Regions from separate parts of the Homo sapiens genome. Here region 1 is linked to region 2. The links come from fine-mapping of genetic effects on gene expression. A gene starts in region 2. The other region holds a variant in brackets. All regions are shown on one strand. Distances are between the middles of the regions.

What was found. PIP is the estimated chance that this variant, and not a neighbour inherited with it, causes the effect.
Region 1: its variant is fine-mapped to the expression of MMP3 in nasal epithelium (TOPMed, PIP 0.93).

Annotation. Positions count from the first base shown.
Region 1 is chr11:102,813,639-102,825,955 of GRCh38, forward strand. It overlaps the pseudogene WTAPP1. Among named protein-coding and RNA genes, the nearest start is that of MMP1, 22 kb to the left of the region's middle. The variant G/T (reference allele first, on the strand shown) is at 5,432.
Region 2 is chr11:102,837,354-102,849,670 of GRCh38, forward strand. It overlaps MMP3 (matrix metallopeptidase 3), which reads right to left and starts at 6,256. Exons shown (of 10, transcript NM_002422.5): 1 at 6,089-6,256; 2 at 5,319-5,563; 3 at 5,078-5,226; 4 at 4,801-4,926; 5 at 3,076-3,240; 6 at 2,755-2,899; 7 at 1,757-1,890; 8 at 1,198-1,357; 9 at 1-48. The coding sequence starts at 6,193.

The DNA.
Region 1 (12,317 bases), 24 kb before region 2:
CACTCAGAACACTATCATTCCTGTTACCATCTGGGTGGGGCAGAGCATTCAACTGTTGCAATTCAGCCAGGTACATGACTAATTTCTAGACACATCTTGGGTAGTCTGAACGTGAATAACAGATTGTAGGCCTTCTTTTCTTTTCTCTTTTCTTTTCCCTCCCTCCCTCTCTCTTTCTCTCTTTCTTTCTTTCTCTCTTTCTTCTTTCCTTCTTTCTTTCCTCCCTTCCTTCCTTCCTTCTTTCTACCTTTCTAATTATACTTTAAGTTCTAAGATACATGTGCAGAACATGCAGGTTTGTTACATAGGTATACATGTGCCATGGTGGTTTGCTGTACCCATCAACCCGTCATCTACATTAGATATTTCTCCTAATGTTATCCCTTCCCTTGCCCCCAACTCCCCGACAGGCCCTGGTGTGTGATGTCCCCCTCCCTGTGCCGATATGTTCTCATTGTTCAATTCCCACTTATGAATGAGAGCATGAGGTGTTTGGTTTTCTGTTCCTGTGTTAGTCTATGGAAAATGGTGGTTTCCAGCTTCATTCATATGCCTGCAAAGGACATGAACTCATTCTTTTTTATGACTGCATAGTATTCCGTGGTGTATATGTGTCACATTTTCTTTATCTAGTCTATCATTGATGGGCATTTGGGTTGGTTCCAAGTCTTTGCTATTGTGAATGTGCTGCAATATACATACGTGTACATGTGTCTTTATAGCAGAATGATTTATAATCCTTTGGGTATATACCCAGCAATGGGATTGCTGGGTCAAATGGTATTTCTGGTTCTGGAACCCTGAGGAATCGCCACACTGTCTTCCACAATGGTTGAACTAATTTACACTCCCACCAACCGTGTAAAAGTGTTCCTATTTCTCCACATCCTCTTCAGCATCTGTTGTTTCCTGACTTTGTAATGATTGCCATTCTAACTGGTGTGAAATGGTATCTCATTGTGGTTTTGATTTGCATTTCTGTAATGACCAATGATGACGAGCTTTTTTTCGTATGTTTATTGGCCCCATAAATGTCTTCTTTTGAGAAATGTCTATTCATATCCTTTGCCCACTTTTTGATGGTTTTTTTTTTCTTGTAAATTTAAGTTCCTTGTAGATGCTGGATATTAGCCCTTTGTCAGATGGATAGACTGCAAAAACTTTCTCCCATTCTGTAGGTTGCCTGTTCACTCTAATGATAGTTTCTTTAGCTGTGCAGAAGCGCTTTAGTTTAATTAGATCCTGTTTGTCAATTTTGGCTTCTGTTGCCATTGCTTTTGGTGTTTTAGTCATGAAGTCTTTGTCCATGCCTGTGTCCTGAATGGTATTGCCTAGATTTTCTTCTAGGGTTTTTTATGGTTTTAGGTCTTTTATTTAAGGCTTTAATCCATCTTGAGTTAATTTTTGTATAAGGTGAAGGAAGGGGTCTAGTTTCAGTTTTCTGCATATGGCTAGCCAGTTTTCCCACAATAGGGAATTCTTTCCCCATTGCTTGTTTTTGTCAGGTTTGTCAAAGATCAGATGGTTGTAGATGTGTGATATTACTTCTGAGGCCTCTGTTCTGTTCCATTGGTCTATATATCTGTTTTGGTATCAGTACCAAGCTGTTTTGGTTACTGTAACCTTGTAGTATAGTTTGAAGTCAGGTAACGTGATTCCTCTAGCTTTGTTCTTTTTGCTTAGGATTGTCTTGGCTATTTTTGGTTCCATATGAAATTTAAAGTAGTTTTTTTCTAATTCTGTTAAGAAAGTCAATGGTAGCTTGATGGGGATGGCATTGAATCTATATATTACTTTGGTCAGTATGGCCATTTTCGTGATATTGATTCTTCTTATCCATGAGCATGGAATGTTTTTTCATTTGTTTGTGTCCTCTCATTTCCTTGAGCAGTGGTTTGTAGTTCTCCTTGAAGAGGTCCTTCATATCCCTTGTAAGTTGGATTCCTAGGTATTTTATTCTCTTTGTAGCAATTGTGAACGGGTGTTCACTCATGATTTGGCTCTCTGTTTGTCTATTATTGGTGTATAGGAATGCTCCTGATTTTTGCACATTGATTTTGTATCCTGAAACTTTGCTGAAGTTTCTTATCAGCTTAAGGAGTTTTTGGGCTGAGATGATGGGTTTTCTAAATACACAATCACGTCATCTGCAAACAGACAATTTGACTTCCTCTCTTCCTATTTGAATATGCTTTATTTCTTTCTCTTGCATGATTGCCCTGCTATCTTTCAATATTGCCCTGCAATAACTTTCAACACTATGTTGAATAGGAGTGGTGAGAGAGTGTATCCTTTGTCTTGTGCTGGTTTTCAAAGGGAATGCTTCCAGCTTTTGCCCATTCAGTATTATATTGGCTGTGGGTTTGTCATAAATAGCTCTCATTATTTTGAGATACGTTCCATCAATACCTACTTTATTTAGTGTTTTTAGCATGAAAGAGTGTTGAATTTTATCAAAAGTCTTCTCTGCATCTATTGAAATAATCATGTGGTTTTTGCCATTGGTTCTGTTTATGTGATGGATTACATTTATTGATTTGCGTATGTTGAACCAGCCTTGCATCCCAGGGATGAAGCTGACTTGATCATTGTGGATAAGGTTTTTAATGTGCTGCTGGATTTGGTTTGCCAGTATTTTATTGAGGATTTTCGCATCGATGTTCATCATGGATATTAGCCTAAAATTTTCTTTTTTTGTTGTGTCTCTGCCAGGTTTTGGTATCAGAGTGATGCTGGTCTCACAAAATGAGTTAGGGAGGAGTCCCTCCTTTTCTATTGGAATAGTTTCAGAAGGAATGGTACCAGCTCCTTTTTGTACCTCTGGTAGAATCCGGCTGTGAATTTGTCTGATCCTGGGCTTTTTATGGTTGGTAGGCTATTAATTACTGCCTCAATTTCAGAGCTTGTTATTGGTCTATTCAGGGATTCGACTTCTTCCTGGTTAATCTTGGGCGGGTGTATATGTCCAGGAATGTATCCATTTCTTCTAGATTTTCTAGTTTATTTGCATAGAGGTATTTATACTATTCTCTGATGGTAGTTTGCATTTCTGTGGGATCAGTGGTATTCTCCCTTTATCATTTTTTATTGTGCCTATTTGATTCTTCTCTTTTCTTCTTTATTAGTCTTGCTAGTCGTCGATCTCTTTTGTTAATCTTTTCAAAAAACCAGCTCCTGGATTCTTTGATTTTTTGAAGGGTTTTTTTGTGTCTCTATCTCCTGCAGGTCTGCTCTAATCTTAGTTATTTACTGTCTTCTGCTAACTTTTGAATTTTTTGCTCTTGCTTCTCTAGCTCTTTTAATTGAGATGTTAGGGTGTCGATTTTAGATATTCCTGGTTTTCTCGTGTGGGCACTTAGTGCTATAAATTTCCCTCTTAACACTGCTTTAGCTGTGCCCCAGAGATTCTGGTACATTGTGTCTTTTTTTCTCATTCGTTTCAAAGAACTTATTTATTCCTACCTTAATTTCGTTATTTACCCAGTAGTCATTTAGGAACAGGTTGTTCAGTTTCCATGTAGTTGTTTGGCTTTGAGTGAGTTTCTTAATCCTGAATCCTAATTTGATTGCACTGTGGTCTGAGAGACTGTTTTTTATTATTTCCATTATTTTGCATTTGCTGAGGAGGGTTTTACTTTGAATTATGTGGTCAATTTTAGAAAAAGTGCTATGTGGTGCTGAGAAGAATGTATATTCTGTTGATTTGGGGTGGAAAGTTCTGTATATGTCTATTAGTTCCACTTGGTCCAGAGCTGAGTTCAAGTCCTGAATATCCTTGTTAATTTTCTGTCTCCTTGATCTAATGTTGACAGTGGGCTGTTAAATTTTCCTGCTATTATTGTGTGGGAGTCTAAGTCTCTTTGTAGGTCTCTAAGAAGTTGCTTTATGAATCTGGGTGCTCCTGTTTTGGCTGCATATATATTTAGGATAGTTAGTTCTTCATGTTGTATTGATACCTTTACCATTATGTAATGCCCTTGTTTGTCTTTTTTGATCTTTGTTAGTATAAAGTCTGTTTTATCAGAGACTAGGATTGCAACCCCTGCTTTTTTTTTTTTTTTTTTTTTTTTTTTTTTTTTTTTTTTTTGCTTTCCATTTACTTGGTAAATATTTCTCTATCCCTTTATTTTGAGCCTATGTGTGTATTTGCATGTGAGATGGGTCTTCTGAATACAGCGCACCAATGGGCCTTGACTCTTTATCTAATTTGCCAGTCTGTGTCTTTTAATTGGGGCATTTAGCTCATTTACATTTAAGGTTAATATTGTTTTGTGTGAATTTGATCCTGTCATTATGATGCTAGCTGGTTATTTTGCCCGTTAGTTGATGCAGTTTCTTCATAGTGTAGGTGGTCTTTACAATTTGGTATGCTTTTGCAGTGGCTAGTACCGGTTTTTCCTTTCCATATTTAGTACTTCCTTCTGGAGCTCTTGTAAGGCAGGCCTGATGGTGACAAAATCCCTCAGCATTTGCTTGTCTGTAAAGGATTTTATTTCTCCTTCACTTATGAAGCTTAGTTTGGCTGGATATGAAATTCTGGGTTGAAAATTCTTTTCTTTAAGAATGTTGAATATTGGCCCCCATTCTCTTCTGGCTTGTAGGGTTTCTGCAGAGAGATCCACTGTTAGTGTAATGAGCTTCCCTTTGTGGGTAACCCGACCTTTCTCTCTGGCTGCTCTTAACATTTTTTCCTCCATTTCATCTTGGTGAATCTGATGATTATGTGTCTTGGGGTTGCTCTTCTCAGGGAGTATCTTTGTAGTGTTCTCTGTATTTCCCGAATTTGAATGTTGGCCTGTCTTACTAGGTTGAGGAAGTTCTCTTGGATAATATCATGAAGTGTGTTTTCCAACTTGATTCCATTCCCCCGTCACTTTCAGGTACACCAATCAAACGTAGGTTTGGTCTTTTCACATAGTCCCATATTTCTTGGAGGCTTTGTTCATTCCTTTTTATTATTTCTTCTCTAATCTTATCTTCATGTTTTATTTCATTAAGTTGATCTTCAATCTCTGATATCCTTTCTTCCACTTGATTGATTTAGCTATTGATACTTGTGTATGCTTCACGAAGTTCTTGTGTTGTGTTTTTCAACTCTATCAGGTCATTTATGTTCTTCTCTAAACTGGTTATTCTAGTTAGCAGTTTCTGTAACCTTTTATCAAGGTTCTTAGCTTCCTTGCATTGGGTTGGAACATGTTCTTTTAGCTTGGTGGAGTCTGTTATTACCCACCATCTGAAGACTACTTCTGTCAATTCATGAAACTCGTTCTCCGTCCAGTTTTGTTCCCTTGCTGGCGAGGAGTTGTGATCCTTTGGAGGAGAAGAGGCATTCTGGTTTTTGGAATTTTCAGCCTTTTTGTGCTGTTTTTTCCTCATCTTCGTGGATTTATCTACCTTTGGTCTTTGACGTTGGTGACCTTTGGATGGG[G/T]TTTTTATGTGGGTGTCCTTTTTGTTGATGTTGATGCTATTGCTTTCTGTTTGTTAGTTTTTATTCTGACATTGAGGGCTCTCTTCTGCAGGTCTGCTGGAGTTTGCTGGAGGTCCACTCCAGACCCTGTTTGCCTAGCTATCACCAGCAGAGGCTGCAGAACAGCAAAGATTGCTGTCTGCTCCTTCCTCTGGAAGCTTCGTCACAGAGGGGCACCTGCCAGATGCCAGCAGGAGCTCTCCTGTATGAGGTGTCTGTTGACCCCTGCTAGGAGATGTTTCCCAGTCAGGAGGCATGAGGGTCAGGGACCCACTTGAGGAGGCAGTTTGTTCCTTAGCGGAGCTCAAGCACTGTGCCGGGAGATCTGCTGCTCTCTTCAGAGCTGACAGGCAGGAATGTTTAAGTTTGCTGAAGCTGTGCCCACAGCTGCTCCTTCCCCCAGGGGCTCTGTCCCAGGGAGATGAGAGTTTTAATCTATAAGCCCCTGACTGGGGCTTCTGCCTTTCTTTCAGAGATGCCCTGCCCAGAGAGGAGGAATCTAGAGAGGCAATCTGGCTGCAGTGGCTTCACCACACTGGTTTCACACCCAGTTCACTTCCTGGTGGCTTTGTTTACACTATGAGGGGAAAACAGCCTACTGGAGCCTCACTAATGGTGGATGCCCCTCCCTGCACCAAGCTTGGGCGTCCCAGGTCGACTTCGGACTACTGTGCTGGCAGTGAGAATTTCAAACCAGTGGGTCTTAGCTTGTTGGGCTCCGTGAGGGTGGGATCCGCTGAGAAGACCACTCGGCTCTCTGGCTTCAGCCCCCTTTTCAGGGGAGTGCATGGTTCTGTCCCGCTGGTGTTCCAGGCACCACTGGGGTACAAAAAAAAAAAAAAAAAAAAAAAACTCCTGCAGCTAGCTTTGTGTCTGCTCAAATGGCCACCTAGTTTTGTGCTTGAAACCTAGGGCCCTGGTGGTGTAGGCACCTGAGGAATTTCCTGGTCTGCGGTTTACAAAGACCATGGAAAAGTGTAGTGTCTGCTCTGGAGTGCACTGTTGCTCATGGTACAGTCCCTGACGGCACAGTCCCTTATGGCTTCCCTTGGCTAGGGGAAGGAGTTCCCCAACCGCTTGTACTTCCCAGGTGAGGTGACGCCCCACCCTGCTCCTGCTTACCCTCCGTGGGCTGCATCCATTGTCTAACCAGTCCCAATGAGATGAACCACGTACCTCAGTTGCAAATGCAGAAATCACCCAGCTTCTGCATTGGTCTCACTAGGAGCTGCAGACCAGAGCTGTTCTTACTCGGCCATCTTGCCTCTCAGTCTCAGGCCTTCTTTATTTTTTGACTTATTTTACTTACTTACTCATTTTCTGTAAGGAAATCTGGATTATAACATGTTCCTTTCATTAGAGACTTTAGATTATGAGGAATAATCAACACCTTCAAATACATTTACTTTTTATCCAAAGACCTTAAAACTTCACCCTCAGGAAGCCCATGGCTTGGGTTCCAGGACACAGTTTAATACAGATGGCAGGTAATCAGCTGATTTTTCCCCCTCCTCAAGTACTGGCTTCACTTTGACATGGTATTTTACGCTGCCCTCCTGGGACCCCCACCACCAATTCCACATATCCTCTGAGGGTCTGTGGCTTGCCAACCCACTTTTAACTTATGTCTAAGCCTAAAATCTTTTTGTTGGGAGATCATTTACAGGGGATTTATAGTAAGGAACTTGAGGATTCTCATGGGATCTAATCTCAGGACAGCCTTCTTGAGAAATGGAAAGATTACAAGCTCTGTCTCTGTCTCTCATTCTCTCCCCCATCCCTCTGCCTTCTCTGTGTTTCTCTCTTTTTCTTACATAGACTTAACCTGAATGTTTGCTATTTTTTCTTTCTGTAGGCTCCTTCAAACTGATGCTCCCCCTCCGTAACATCAGCCTGTGTGTGACTAGGACTTGCTATGGTTCTAATTCTGGTTCCAATCCTAGTTCATCTTATGAATTTGATCATGGACATGTGTTCTGGGTCTATCATTTCTAATTCTGGGAAAGAGCACATGACAGGCTCTGCTTTATTCTTGTGTTCATCTCTAATCCAATCAACTAGAGCCATACTGGTGAGGTTGCTGGTACAAACATTATTGTCTAGGTCTGCCATATCCATGGGGACTTTGGAGGACATGTCAGAGAAGGAAAAACAAATAGGCATGCATAACAAACATATCATTCACAATATTCTAGGCAGTGGGTACAGCGACCTTGAGGGCTGGAGAAAGAAGAGAGCTTGGTACATATAGGGAAATTCAAGTGGTTCAGAATGGCTGGAGTGTAGCATTTGGGGTAGGAGATAATAAGAGATGAGATGGATCAGTAACCAGGGCTGGAATTATGAAGGGCTTTGATACCCTGCTAAGGAGTCGAAGTAGATAAAAAGTCAGGTTTTCTCTCCTTTCTTGGCTTTTACATCCTATACCATCTATTTGGAAGAGATACCACCCCTCCTTTCCTTGACTTACTAAGCATTTGCCCTTTGGGTCTCAGCTTAAATGTACCTTTTCGAAAATCCTTCCCTGATCTCTGAAGCCTGGTTAGTTGCTATGTGTTTCCCCAGCTCTGTGTGCCTGCACTAAATAGTACTCATATCCTGTAACCTGCTTGCCTGTTCACTTTTCTCTCTCTCCTGCTAGAGTATAAGCAGGAATCCTGTCTGAATATATCTTTTATCCATAGCGCAGTGCCTGGCAATCACAGACATTCTGTAAATGTCCTGTTTAAGGAATGAATACATCAATGAATGAATGAGATGGACACAAATCAAGCAACCTCAAGTATCCCTTTCCTTGCTTGAGGTTAAGCCTGGCCTTGCTTCTTAGTTAGACTGACTGAAGCCCTCTCAGCCTCTAATCCTTGAGGAATGAAGACCCTCCTGCAGATTCTCTGGTCCCAACCTGGGGACTCTGAATATTCTCCCCAGACACCACTCTCTTCCCTGCTCCTTCCTCTGGAAGCTTCATCCCAGAGGGGTGAGAAGGGTTTTAAAAAGGGGTTTCCCTGCACAGGCTCTCTTTGCCTGCTCCCATCCATGTAAGACATGACTGCTCCTCCTTGCCTTCTGCCATGATTGTGCCAGATGCCAGCCGGAGCTCTCCTGTATGAGGTGTCCTTTACACCTGCCCACTTCCTACATGATCAATCTAGATTAGTTTCCTAATGTCATTCTGTATTTTGCCATCTTAATCCTTTCTCTTTTCCAATCACTTCTCCCTCATTTCCTTCCTTGAGAAAGGAAATAAACTTAAATAGTCCTCCACTCATTGGCTGCGCATCCTAGGAGCATCTATGAAGAGTTCACACTTTTCTGTCCCAAACTGTCCATCTTACCAGCACATCACATGTATATAAACATTGAATATATGTATATAAATGTATATATCTATATATAAATATTATAATTCCTACTGTTGACTCTCACAAATATCAACAAGCAGCAACCTATAATTATAGATTATACACATACAATCTATATATAGGTTATATAGATTATATATAATATATGCTATCCTGCTTTATTCCATTAATGATTGTGGTGTTGCATTCTATTACAAAGGAAGAGTGGCAAAATATGAACTTATATTGTAGATGTTTTCTAATTCAATATTGAAATGCCTCAAGACTCAGTCCTTGGATCTCTTCACTTCTTTTTTCTTACTACATTGTTAAACTCATCCATTCTCAAGCCTTAAAATCATCTATGTGCTGATAACTCCCAAATTTATGTCTCCAATCCAGGCCTTTTCCCTAAACTGCATACTCCTATATCCAACATCTCTACTTGGATGTCAAATAGACCTCTCAAACACACAATGTGTCCAAAATGGAACCTCTAATCTTGCCCCAACTCCCTGCTCCACCCACAGCCTTCCACGTTTCAGGTGATGGCAACTTGGCAGCTTCATCCTTTCAGTTGCTCAGTCCAAAAGACTTGAAGTCATCCTAAACTCCTCTCTCTTTCTCACACTTCCCAGCCAGTCTGTCATTAAATCCTGCTGGTTCCACCCTCTAATATATCCTTCTCTCCATTTCCACTGTTCCCGTCCTGATTGGAGTCACCATCCTCTCTTGGCCGGAATACTGCAGTAGCTTCCTCATAGGTCTCTGTGAATCTACCCTTTCTCCCATACAATCTAACCTAGCAGAGCACCAGAGGCTCTTCTGCTCCACACCTTCCAATGCCCACCCCCATTTCACTCACAGTGAAAGCCCGTGTTTATATTGGCCCAATACCCCCACTCACTTTGCCTTCCACCTCAACCCTTATCCCTGGGACTTTATCTTCTAGCACTTCCACTCCCCTCCCACCTTTTGATTGTTGTAAGTAGTCCTCTTGCTGTCCTTTGACCATCATGATCACACTCCATCTTAGGATCCTCCACTCTAGCTGTTATTCAGGCTGGAGTGCTTTTTTCCTAGATTCACTTGGCAAGCTCTCTCGCCTTCTCCCAGTCTTTGTTCAGATATCATCTTCTCCACGAGGCTTACTTTGAGCACCCTACTGCAACTGTCACCACCCCAAGCCCTCTTTGCTTGCAATCCCAACCTCACTCTACTTTTTCTATTTTCCATTGTACTTATCTCCTTCTAATATATGACATAAGTTATTTATTTGCTATTATCCGTCTCTCTTGTTTGAATGCAAGTTCTAAGAAGACAAAGATCTTTGTTTTTTTCACTGATTGATATGGTTTGGCTGTGTTCCCCTGACAAATCTCATCTTGAATTCCCACATGTTATGGGAGGGACCCAGTGGGAGGTAATTGAATCATGGGGGCAGGTCTTTCTTGTGCTGTTCTCATGCTAGTGAATAAGTCTCACAAGATCTGATGGTTTTAAAAAGGGGAGTTTCCCTGCACAAGCTCTCTTTGCCTGCTGCCATCCATATAAGACATGACTGCTCCTCCTAAGCTTCTGCCATGATTGTGAGTTCTCCTCAGCCATGTGCAACTGTAAGTCCATTAAACCTCTTTCTTTTGTAAATTGCCCAGTCTTGGGTATGTCTTTATCAGCAGCATGAATATGAACTAATACACTGATTTATCAAAGCTCTTAGAAGTGCTTGGCATATAATGAGTGCTTAGTGAATATTGTCGAAAGAATGAATGAATGAAAAAGCAAATTAATATCTCCTACCCTGTCTGCTCTTTATGTATCTCCATATCAGTGGTATAATTCTCAATTGTGAGCTCCCGAAAGGTAGAAAGCATTTTTGTCCTTTCTTAGCAGAGCAGGATTTTGACCTAAATTTCTGCAAACTATAGTCTTATGGTTATGACTCTTTTTGTAAGTTGATCACTCATTCACAAGGATGTAATTTGCATCTGATTAATCACAAGACTGATGTGGTCTCAGAACATTGAGAAAAAGACTACTTCATCTACCTGACAGTCAAAGGGTAACACATTAGGACTTGAGAGATAATAAATTCAAAGGAAGTTCACACACAGAAAAATTTAAGATTAAATTGTCATTTTCAGATAAATTTGTTAGGGATATTGGTTCAGTATTCTGCAGCAGATGCATAAAATATTTCCATGCCTTTAAGAATCCATTTGTAGTCTCAGATACCACATGTGTTCCAGGAGTGTAGATGTCCTGCACAGTACTCTTTTATGAGTCACTCAAGCTTCTCCTGTGGCATCAGATTTTGCAGTGATTTTGTAATGGACATTTCCTAATTGAGAAATTATCAGCTATTTTTGAATTATGAAATGGCTACATTACTTAGAAATAGGCCCTTGGGTGCACATGAGATATTTCATTACCAGGCGTAAGATTTATTTTATTAATAGAAAAATAATATAAAATGTCACTTAAAGGATCTTATCAAAATTATGAACCTTCCACTTCTGAATGTCTGTATTATACATCCATTCCTAGGTCACCTAAACTTACCCCTTTGACTCAACCTGCTACAAAGAGCCAACCACTTCCTCTACTCCAGCTGTTTCTTTATTCCAACTCTTGCCCTATTATGTCACTCAGTCTGTTCTTTGCTCTATCTCTTTTGCTCTTAATCACATTTATAGGCTGTATTAGTTCATTCTTATGCTGCTAATAAAGACATACCCAAGACTGGGAAATTTATAAAGGAAAGAGTTTTAATGGACGCATAATTCCATATGGCTGAGGAGGATTTACAATCATGGCAGAGGGCAAAGGAGGGGCAAAGGCTTGTCTTACATGGTGGCAAGCAAGAGGGCATGTGTAAGGGAAGTACTCTTTATAAAACCATCAGATCTCATGAGACTTATGCACTGTCGTGAGAATAGCATGGGAAAAACTCACCTCCATGATTCAGTTACCTCCCAGTGAGTCCCTCTCACAACACATGTGGATTATGGGAGCTACAATTCAAGTTGAGATTTGGGTGGGGACACAGCCATACCATATCATTCCACCCCTGGCCCCTCCCAAATCTCATGTCCTCACATTTCAAAACTAATCATGCCTTCCCAACAGTCCCCCAAAGTCTGAACTCATTTCAGCATTAACTCAAAAGTCCACAGTCCAAAGTCTCATCTAAGACAGGCAAGTCCCTTCTGCCAAAAGCAAGTTAGTTACTTCCTAGATACAATGTGGGTACCAGGCATTGGGTAAATATACCTGCTCCAAATGGGAAAAATTGGCCAAAACAAAGGGGCTACAGTCCCCTGGAAAGTCTAAAATCCAACAGGGCAGTCATTAAACCTTAAAGTTACAAAATGATCTCCTTTAACTCCATGTCTCACATCCAGGTCATGCTGATGCAAGAGGTGGGCTCCCACAGCCTTGGGCAGCTCTGCCTCTGTGGCTTTGCAGGGTATGGCCCCCATTTTTGCTGCTTTCACTGGCTGACA
Region 2 (12,317 bases):
ATTTGCTTGGGAAAGCCTGGCTCCATGGAATTTCTCTTCTCATCAAATCTGTACCAAGTAAAAGAAACAGCTCAGCATTGCATAGAGGCCATGTTACCGAACATCTTAGATCATGTTAGGTTTAATGTGGAATTTTACTAAACTTTATAAATACTGCAAATAAATGCCAAGCATATTTGGGACTATAGAAATATGTGACTTTAATGGTACTGTAAAGAGTTCTGAAAGCCATATCTCCATCCGGAACAGGGGCCGCATCCTGCTGTATGTAGCACATGCTGTTTGTCATCATATTTCTTAAGCCTGGACAGAAAGAACCTTAATCATCTTTCTGTCACAAAGACATGAAAGTGTGAACATATATATAAAGTGAATTGAATCAACATCTAAAATGCAATTTTAATTCCCTACCACAATTGGCCCATATATGCCTGCTGTCCCCTCCCCTGCACATCTAAATCTTCTCTGGTGGCCTCCTGGGAAAAGGGATTAGGATAAGAAGCAAAGCACAGTAAGTGTGTTTTTAGCCCATTGGCTGGATATCAGATGGTCGGCCTCGATGTCTCAAAGTCTGGCCAAATGACCCAGGAATCAACCTGTCTGTGAGTGTTGGGTTGTATCCATAAACTGGACTGCTATTGATCATCATCTCTTAAATGAGCCATCATTATCAGGTAGAGGTGACAAGTGGGTGAGGTTAGAGGTAGCCCTTGAAAATCATATAGTAGTGTTAGGAAGACAAAACAAACACACAATGAGACAGTGACAAACACACAGTGAGACAGTGAGCCAAACTAAAAGACAATGGGAAGGGAACGCTAAATTGCGGTCTGGGTTCTCAGAACATTTTCCCAATGGGTCTAAAGTCCACGAGGGAAAGCTGCATGGAGGTGATGAGACTTGAGCCAGGACTTGAAGGATGGGCAAGATTTGAATAGGTTGAGGAGAGAAGAGGGGGCTCCAGGCAGGTGGGGTGACAGCACCAAGGGAAGCACCAGCCAACTGCACTTGGGACTGAAAGCAGGAGAGCCTAAGGTGCTGCTGTTTTAAAGTAAGAACTTTCCCACAGTTGTCTGAAGTCCCATCCTTCCTACTAAGAGAGAAGCAGGCCTAAGGTTGGGGTGGGGGATTTCCTTAGTAAAAGAAACTAATTTCCCTAATTAGGCTCCATACAAAGTCATTTCTCTTGCATCTCACCTCCAGTATTTGTCCTCTACAAAGAAATATGTTTTGTTCTTTTCCTTATCAGAAATGGCTGCATCGATTTTCCTCACGGTTGGAGGGAAACCTAGGGTGTGGATGCCTCTTGGGTATCCAGCTCGTACCTCATTTCCTCTGATAGCCCAGAATTGATTTCCTGTTAAATATAAATAATTCAGAGTCATATTGAATTATAACAGTTAAGCCCTTTCGCTTTAGAAATACACTTTAGCATCTTTGATTTTCATGGTAAAGTAGTAGCCCAAATTTTAGATTTAGTCACCAGCTTACAGTGGGCTTTTCACAAAAATTTGCAGACTGAATGAATGAACTAAGGTCAAATGAGAGAATTTACAACTCTGGGTAATTTATCTTCTTGTCTTTATTTTTATCATCTATGAAATATAAATACAATGATATCAGCCCTGGTTATTTCTTCATTACCGTTGACTACTGTATTAGCCAGAACTTGTAGTAGGGAAAATTAAAGTGTTGTTCAATTTCTTATGAGAGGGTTTACTTTGGCAAGTTAAACAAATGATGATATAGTAATTACCTTTAAAAATGAAAACGAGGTCCTTGCTAGTAACTTCATATGCGGCATCCACGCCTGAAGGAAGAGATGGCCAAAATGAAGAGATCAAATGCAATTCAGGTTCAAGCTTCCTGAGGGATTTGCGCCAAAAGTGCCTAAAATATATGTAAAAAGAAATGTAAATTGAAAAACAATCTTTCACCTTTAGAATATTTTCCTCACCGTCTTGCCTCACCCAGCTTCCCCCATTCTCTCATCTTCTAGGCTGGATGACAGATAGAAATCAGGTATATTGCCATTAGAAAATTTCTTTCCTTTTTCTTCAGAAGACTGTAGTGAGTCTCCCGTCATAGGTTTCCAGAGTAATGTCTTCTATGAAAGAAAAATTATTCTATCGTGCAAATGAATTAGCCCAGCATAAGCTTTAATTACCTGCAATGTATGCAAAACAGTGCGTGTGCTATACCCTCTTCCAAAAGCTAGGCCGTGTTTGTATACGTGTATGTGCTGTGTAAATATATTCTTGTATGTGTGTAGAAAGATTCTGGAAGGATGCACAAAAAGTCTTGACTCTGGATGAGTACAGGGAGAACTGGGAACTAAAATTTTTAATTTGCTTCTCATTTGTGCTCTTTGAATGTTTGTCATGTGCATATTGATCCATCAGTAAGTAAATTACTTGATTAAATGTAATGTTGATCCTGATGTCATTTTTAAAGGAAGTAAAAATAAAATTATTATTCGAAAGATCTACTCATGCCTTTTGAAAAGTAACTGTGACTTAAGACATTTGGAAACAGCAATTAGAAGCTAAGAACCAGATCAGCCTGTGCCTTCAAAAATGAACCTGACAATTTTAGGAAAATGTGGGAAAAGGCAGCACCAGATCTAAATGATTCCAAGCTCAGAAGAAACGTTTTTGTTTTAAATGTCTAAGAATCTCTATCAAGTTTCTGCGTGTTTTCCTTTCTAAACATTGTAGATTAAAATGGTAGGAAAATATAATTTTTCAGCCTGACCTGTCTTTAAAGATCAGGATTTCTCCCCTCAGAGTGCTGACAGCATCAAAGGACAAAGCAGGATCACAGTTGGCTGGCGTCCCAGGTTCTGGAGGGACAGGTTCCGTGGGTACCAGGGGGGTCTCAGGGGAGTCAGGGGGAGGTCCTAAAGGGAACATTAGGGGAAATGTGATACGTTTCAATATATGCCCATTTGTATGCTTTCCAAACATTCTCACGGTGCTTTGAACTAAATCATAAATACTTTATGTAGCATTTGAAAGCTCTTCTGAAGACCATCATTGCAAAACTACAATGGCTGATTTTCCCAGTGTCACTCACCATAGAGGGACTGAATGCCATTTATATCATCTTGAGACAGGCGGAACCGAGTCAGGTCTGTGAGTGAGTGATAGAGTGGGTACATCAAAGCTTCAGTGTTGGCTGAGTGAAAGAGACCCAGGGAGTGGCCAATTTCATGAGCAGCAACGAGAAATAAATTGGTCCCTATTTAAGAAATTGAGAACAATAGTTACTTATTTTTTAAATACATGTGCATTACACAGGTCTGCTGTGCATTGTATTGGTTTTTACTTCTTGGAACCACACAGGGCTTTTTACACCTTGTTTGTTGGTTAATTGAACAATTGACTAATTACACACTTAATGGAAAGCTAAGTGTATTTTAAAACTCATACCTGTAATCAATCTTTGAGATTGATTTCCCAGTTACATCCACTTGCCCCCCATGGCCCCAAACCCACCCCCAGCCTCACAAGCATATTAACTCCAGAAGAACCAGATCCCTTTTCTTGTACTCAGGAATGGAATGAACCCACTTGCTTAGCATATCAGATATTTACCTTCATTTGTCAATGCAAAGCTAAACACTGTTTTAATATATTTACATTTGCCATTTGCAGTCTCAGTTAAAGGAAACTATATTCATGTTAATTGATAATGTCTCAGCCTCATCATCATGAAGTACATATTGAGACTAAAAACATGAATAATGATAGATGTCATAGGATTTGCAAAATTGGTTTAAAACACAGTATGCCCAATCATGTCTAGCATTTGTCACACAACAGATTTAGAATACATAAACACTGGCTTTATTCAAAATTTTTTCCTTCATATTTTTAAAAACACCCATAATGCTAAAATTGGGAGGCATTGGGTAATTATGATCAATATAGTAAGTAAATCTACCTTACTTTTGCTAGTATTACTTGTGTAACTTGTGATGCTAGGAACAATCTCATTTGAGAGTTTGCAGGAAGGTTTCTTTACAAGAATTCGTTAACTCAACCAATCAAGAATTCTATCCAGGACTAAACTCACATTTGTACGTCCTACAGAGGTTTACATTTTCATTATAAATCCCAGTTAAACCTCAGACATAGTATTAATTGTTTTCCTATTTTTTTAGAAGTAGTGTTAATTGTTTTAGCTGATTTTTTTGAAAACTTTGGATGTCATTCCCCAAAACATACAGTTATGAACTGAGAAACATTCTTCTACCTAAACAGTTTGAACGTTGTATTTGGGAGTTAGTCTTTTCCTTCAGAACAAGCCCATAAAAATTCTTTTAACCTAAAAGTACTAAAATAATGCCTCAGCCAGAAAAAAAAAAAAAAGAGAATCTCAGTTTCTGAAATTTAATTCTTATTTCTGGTTTGAAGAGTAAAGAAGTAAATGGAGGAAATTACATAAGTAACATCCAGAGCACATTTTAATGTAGATTCAGTGCAATATACTATCCCTTGAATGTTTGTATTTTGATATGAGAAATTTTTCTTAATAATGGTTACCCCTAGATCACAAAGATCCAGTCATTAAAGAAATACTTAATGATATTTCCTATATTGTGCTTACCAATATAGGAAAACTGTTAAAGCATCTGAAAATATTTTCAATAATAATTAAAACAAAAATATATTCTGCTGATCTCTGATCCACTGGAAAATCCAGAACATCTCATTTCTTGAGCATTCTTGGTTATTAACAGATTTCTACATATAAAAAAATTAATGCCAAAATCATTCTGAGAGATGTGTAACTAACCTGTTGTATCCTTTGTCCATTGTTCATCATCATCAAAGTGGGCATCTCCATTAATCCCTGGCCCAGGGGCATAGGCATGGGCCAAAACATTTCCAGGTCCATCAAAAGGGTAAAAGTCTCCATGTTCTAGTAGGAAAAAAATTTATTGGAAAGATATGTAACAAGGATCCCTTTTGAGCCTTTTCCAGTACAACAACACCAGATAGATGAATGGATACATTTCATGTGTTTTTTGTTTTGTTTTGTTTTGCTTTTTTTTTTTTTTTTTTTTTTTTACCTCTAACTGCAAAAGAGATCATTATATCAGCCTCTCCTTCATACAGCCTGGAGAATGTGAGTGGAGTCACCTCTTCCCAGACTTTCAGAGCTTTCTCAACAGCAGAATCAACAGCATCTTTTGGCAAATCTGGTGTATAATTCACAATCCTGTAGGAGAAAAATTGAAGCAGATGCTATTTTCTCCTATGATATAGTTTATAAAATTCCAATCTTATGTGAAAACCCCTCTGAACCATTACCTGTATGTAAGGTGGGTTTTCCTCCACTTCGGGATGCCAGGAAAGGTTCTGAAGTGACCAACATCAGGAACTCCACACCTGGGCTTGCGCATCACCTCCAGAGTGTCGGAGTCCAGCTTCCCCGTCACCTCCAATCCAAGGAACTTCTGCATTTCTCGGATTTTTTTAACAACAGGACCACTGTCCTTTCTCCTAACAAACTGTTTCACATCTTTTTTGAGGTCGTAGTAGTTTTCTAGATATTTCTAACAGAATAAGTATAGTTTTTAGGTCACTCTTACAATTTTTACTATAGCTATCTATTTATAGTAAGTTTTTGCAGTTGCTCACTTCTTAATCTATTTGGAGTATTTCTCTAGCTTGCTGAAATAATGGCAAATTTTATAATATGATACTAGCAACACAAATATTTAGCTAAAATTACGTTGCATTAAAAAAAAAACTGAAGCTGTTCCAAAGCAAGATATGGTTCATCCACTCTCCACTTGTTACTCATGTGCCTTAAGCCCCAGTGCTGCTACTGCTATGGTGTTGTGTGATCTTAAGAAAACACCTAATATTTCTGGCCTTTGTTTCTTCCTACATAAGAGGAGAAGCCCAAATGGTGTGATAATGAGACCTTTTCCACTTCCAACACTCTATAACTCTCTATTCTTGAACTGTTCCTACACAGTAAGCTCAAGCATTCTATGTGGGTTTTAAGACACACAGAATGGTTTCAGCTTACTCTGGAAGCTCCCCACCTGGCCAGGTCAGTTAGTGTTAATTACCTGAACAAGGTTCATGCTGGTGTCCTCACCCCTTGCAGCTCCATCCAATGGATAGGCTGAGCAAACTGCCACGCACAGCAACAGTAGGATTGGAAGACTCTTCATTTCCACTGGCTTTACTTAGCTCTATGTTGTCTCTATGCCTTGCTGTCTTGCCTGCCTCCTTGTAGGTCCAACCTCGGGAGCGCAGCTTTTAAAGAGTGACAGTGTTTGTTTGGATCACCCGCAGCTTGACTCATCCTTGCTTTCATCCAAATGGCAGCAGGACCATTTCCAAACATTCCAAATTCAAAGTAGGATGATACAACCTACTTTACTAATTTCTCTCAACCTTCCCAATTTTGCAAGGCAACACAGTGATTAATCTCCAGGAAGTGCTTCCTGTCTTGGTAGAGGAGAAAACTGGAGCATTTTTTTTCTTCTGGAAAAATTGACTGGAATTCACTAGACAATTTATGTTTGTCCTTTTGAGAGAAGAAGTAGGTTGACTTGGTAAAAATCAGAATTGTGCAGAACTTCTAAAAGCAGTTTTATTTTAAGAAACACATTATAAAAGCAAATAAAAGATGTAAGTGGAAAGTGTACATACATAGCTATAGTCTATACTATATACAATTATACTCAAAACATAAAAGATAATATCTAGAAGAAATTTAGAAGGGGTGATTTATTTTTCTGAATCTGATTTGTAATGCCTGCTATTGACTGTCGTTGGATTTGCTGGTTCTTGAGGAGGAAAACCTCATGGGCAGAATAGAACAAAGAGGGTCTGTGAAAAAGAAGGAAGTATATTCCCTTTGGGTTGGTTTTAATTCTGTAACCAATTTATTAATGGGTGATGGGCCCACGTAGCTGCTCCATAAATAGTTGTAGAATTGAAATGAATTACATTGCTTACCGGACTGAAATTCTCTCTGTCCTTGTCTTCTACACATGTCTTATTCTCTTTCAACCTTTTCCCCTCCTCCCTAAATTCAAATTAGCAGATGCTTTGAAGTTGAAGAACAGAATCCATCCTAAATTTTCTCTTCATGCTCTTCTGTTTTCTTCCTTTCCTTTCTTTTCTGTTTCTTTGTCAAGTAAAGTGTTGCTCACATTATTGGTGTATAATAAATGCTTGAATGCAAGACTCTAAACATATTCAGAGGAAGACATTTTGTAAAACTTTTATAGTCCTCTTGCCACCTGCCACCATCCATCTCCTCAATGCTTCCCTGATCACCACATTTTGTTTGTTCTTTCTTTCTTTGCTGACTTGCTTATTTGTTTGCTAAAGGGAAGAACATCTTGGGAGTAAGAACTCAGTAGAATGATGGATACAAATGTGCATTTATTAGACCTTTAATAAGTGCCCATTTTGCTTCCTCTCATTTATAACTCTTTTGCATTTTCTTCTTTGCTTTATTTTTTGTGTGTTTCTTAATAAACATTGGAGAGATTTTACCCAATAAGTTTAAAGGGATTTCTCTGTGGCAATAAGATCCCTATGACTGAAGATGCCCACACAGTTGATAGCCACTTGGCAGGGGGCTATACATCACATTTAAGCCTTCATTTTTAGACTAGATTATGTCTAAAGACTTTTTCAAATTTTATTTAAAAAATAGAGACAGAGGTTTCACTATGTTGCCCAGGCTGGTTTCGAGCTCTGGGCTCAAGTGATTCTCCTGCCTCAACCTCTCAAAGTGCTAGGATTACAGACATGGGTCACGGCACCTGGCCTAAAGACATTTTAAAACTAGTATTCTATGGTTCTCCATTCCTTTGATGGGGGGAAAAACCATGTCTTGTCCTGATTGAAATACAGGGAAAATATTTGGCCACATTGATATGAGGACAAGGAGAACAGAGTGGTGGCAGTGATGTGAATTCCAGGAAGAAACAGTGGAGCCCAACAGATAAAATATTGAGAGGTTAAAAGTGTAGAAGCTGTGGCAGCTCTAATTCCTTCTATATTAAGGTTTATCCTTTGTAAATTTTCTCTGGAGTTATAACTTATAAAACATATTTAAAGTTTAGAGGAAAGCCTGATAGATAATATGTTTGCTTTTCCAACTGTTAAGATGTGATTGGCAAAATGGGCCATGCTGTTCCTGAACTAAATACAAAAGTTTGCTATATTTTAAAACAGCTTCGACGACTTCCCTGAAAGATGTTTCCCAAGTCCCAGGAAGAGTCATTAATCATTGTTCAATGGTACCTTGTACCTGCCTCTGCTACTCTATTTTCCACACTGAACTGTAGTGAAATGGTTTATCTGTCTCTCTCATTCTAATGTAAGCTACTTGAGGGTATGGACCATGCCTCATTTGATTCTGTATTCCTAGTACTTAGCATGGTATCTGATATATAGTAGGTAACCAAAAATTACTTAGAGAACTAAATAATATATTAGTTATGAGTGAAAGGCTCATAGCAAATGTCAAACAGGTAAATTAAAAGTCAAAAAATCCAAAAATCATGCAGACATTTCTAGATTTGCAGATTCTACATGTCATATATACTAAATACTCTAAAAACTAAATTTTTTAGAAGTTGTATTTCCACAAGAAAAGATCAAGCTATCATCTAAAATCTCTCTAATATATAATTGAAGTCCTCATTCATATGTCTGCAGAACACTCAAACTAATCTTGTAGAACCAGAAGTTTTCTAACCGTGCATGAGACAGTCAAATTGCATTTTGTAGAGTATGTTTTAAAAATCAATGCAGTAATGAGAAGGAATAGGTAAAATTAAAGAGCAACTGAGTGTAAGAAGGAACGGAGGGAGAAGGAGGGAGAAGAGAAAGGGGGAGGAAGATGAGGAGAGGGGAGGAGGAGAGCAAACACTCCAGGTGTAGAGGGAGGAACTGAATACTAGCGGAAAAAAAGTGGGCATTTCCAGCAAGAAATCAAAATGACTGTTCCACAGAACAATCATTTGTTATATGGTTAAATAAATACAAGGGTCAGATAATGGCTAGTTTTATAAATCTGACCTCCCAGGGATCAGCGGCTTAGAATTAAATTTACATTCAATCTAATCCTTGGATTTAAAAACTGGCAGTGATCCCAGGTAACATTCTATCTCGTAACTTTTCACATTTGTCTTCCTATTTGTCACACTTCTCCATGACTAATCAGACATGATTGTGCAGGATCCTTGCTACCTCTAGCTGATAACTGATATAATCATTATTTCAGCTATACATTCATTTATCAAGTATCTGAGTCTCAAGGGCTTCAGAATACCCAAACTAAGAGTATAGATTTGGAGATAAAGTTTAGAAAATTTTAGTAAAAAAAAAAAAGTGAACAAACTAGCTGTTTAAAAGCAGGAAAGAAAGAAGAAAGGAAGGAAGGGAAGGAGGTATAGGAAGGAAGGAAGGGAAGAAGGTAGAGGAAGGAAGAAAGGAAGGAAGGAAGAAAGGAAGGAAGGAAGGAAAAGAGGGAGGGAGGGAGGGAAGGAGGGAGGGAGGGAGGGAAGGAGGGAAGGAGAGAATATAACCTAGCCAAGGAAAGAATCCCCTATATAATTAATTCTATAAGAAATAAGCCTGGTATGGTGGCTCCTGCCTATAACCTCAGCACTTTGGGAGACTGAGATAGGAGGACTGCTTGAGCCCAGAAGTTGAAGACCCACCTAGGCAACATAGGGAGACCTCAGCTCCACGAAAAAATAAAAATAATTAGCCACTTGTGGCAGTGCACACCTGTAGTCCCAGCTATTTGGGAAGCTGAGGCAGGAGGATCACTTGAGCCCTGGAAGTGAGCTGTGATGGTGCCACTGCACTCCAGCCTGGGCAAGAGAGCAAGACCCTGTCTCAAAAAAAAAAAAAAGTAAAAAGTTGTACACGAATTAAGCAGAAGGTGCTTGCTTACTTTAGGTGTTTCCTTTAGAAAAAACTCATAGATAAAGTAGCAGATAAAGTGAGCCTGGAATGATCTGGAAATGGAGGAAAATTGCTTCTTGGCCTTTTGGCTAAGAACAAGGGTGGAAATGGAGGAAAATTCAGTAACAGAGTATACAAGTATGCAGAGTCAAGAAAGACTCTATATGGAAAACGTCAAAGAGTTACTTTTTATTGAAATAAAAGGTATGTGAAGGGTAATAATGGAAAATAAAAAATAAAGTTGTGAAAAGATAGGTTGGAGTCCAGTCATAGAAGACCATTAGTCTGTAGCTAAGGTGCTTAGAGCTTATTCCATTGTTGGTGGAAAGCCATGTGATATGGTCTGGCTGTGTCCCCAACCAAATCTCATCTTGAATTGTAACTCCAACAATTCCCACATGTCGTGGGAAGAACCCAGTGGGAGGTGATTGAATTATGGGGGTGGGTCTTCCCTGCGCTGTTCTCATGATAGTGAATGAGTCTCATGAGATCTGATGGTTTTAAAAATGGTAGTTTCCCTGCACAAGCACTTTTTTTGCCTGCTGCCTTCCACGTAAGACATGACTTGCTCCTCCTTACCTTCTGCCATGATTGTGAGGCTTTCCCAGCCACGTGAAACTGTAAGTCCATATTAAACCTCTTTTTCTTTCCAGTCTCTGGTATGTCTTTATCAGCAGTGTGAAAACAAACTAATACACTAGTTTCTACAAAACATTTTAAATAAATTTTACATACTTAAATAAAACGTTAAATGTTTATTATAGAAAATTTAGAATATATAAAAAAGTACAAAGAAGAAAATAAATCTTTTATAGTCATGACCCAAAAAGAAAAACACTACTAACAGTATTAACTATGTATTTCCTCTAATTTCTTTATACCTGTGTATTCTTTTTCACATCATGCTGATCATGGGAGTTTATAAAATTTCATCTATATTTTCCACAATTTTGAATATCACTAGCTGGACAGAAGTACTAACAAGGCAACATATTCCATCTGAATTATAGGGCCATGTTGCTCAGACTGGTTTCAAATTCCTAGGCCTGAGTGATTTGCCCACCTTGGCCCCGCAAAGTGCTAAGATTACAGACATGAGCCACTATGCCTAACAATAAAATATTTTGATACTGGTATGCAATATGTAGCAATCACATTGGGGTAAATGGGGGTATTCATCACCTCAAGCATTGATCACTTCCTTGTGTTACAAACATTCCAACTTATTGTTTAGTTATTTTAAAATGTACAATAAATTGTTGACTGTAGTCACCCTGTTGTGCTATCAAATACTATATAATATTCATTCTAACTATATTTTTGTACCCATTAACCATACCCACTCCCACTACCCCCCACTACACTTCTCAGCTACTGGTAACCCTCATTCTACTCTCTATCTCCATGAATTTAATTGTTTTAATTTTTAGATCCCACAAATAAGTGAAAACATGTGAAGTTTGTCTTTCTGTGCCTTGCTTATTTCACTTAATGTAATGTCCTCCAGTTCCGTCAATGTTGTTGCAAATGACAGGTCTCGTTCTTTTTCATGGTTGAATGGGACTCCACTGTGTATATGTACTATGTTTTCTTTATCAATTCATCTGTTGACGGACACAGGTTGCTTCCAAATCTTGGCTATTGTGAATAGTGCTGCAGTTAACATGGAAGTGTAAATATCTCTTTGACATGTTGATTTCATTTCCTTTAGATAAATATTCAGTAGTGGAATTGCTGGATCATATGGTAGGTCTATTTTTAGTTTTTTGAGAAACTTCCGTACTGTTGTCCATGGTGGTTGTACTAATTTACATCCTCACCAAGGATGTATGAGGGTTCCCGTTTCTCCACATCCTTGCCAGAATTTGTTATTGCCTGTTTTTTGGGAAAAAAGCCATTTTTACTGGGATAAGATGATATCTCATTGTAGTTTTGATTTGCATTTCTCTGATAATCAGTGATGTTGAGCACTTTTTCATATCACATAGGTTTTCATAGTTGAAATCAGACTATATATTCTGATTTTTATGCCTATTTGCCATAGAAACTTTCAAACATTCTAGTTGGAAGGGGAATTAGAATAGAAAAGGGATGAGGCACAGGTAATTTCTGCACGTGATGGCTCAGTCTTTTTTCATTTATAAAAGCATAATGACTCAGATCACTCCACATGAGTGGTAAAAATGTTGAAATCTATCACTTAAATACTTTGAGAATGACAATAGCTTTTATGTGGCTCCAGGCAACTCTGTTTTTATGGAGGGAAAGAGCATTTTGTAATATTCTTGGCACAAATATTCCAGTTATGTAAAACAGAGTAACATAAAGTTTTCAGTGGTTCTCCAACAGGCAGTA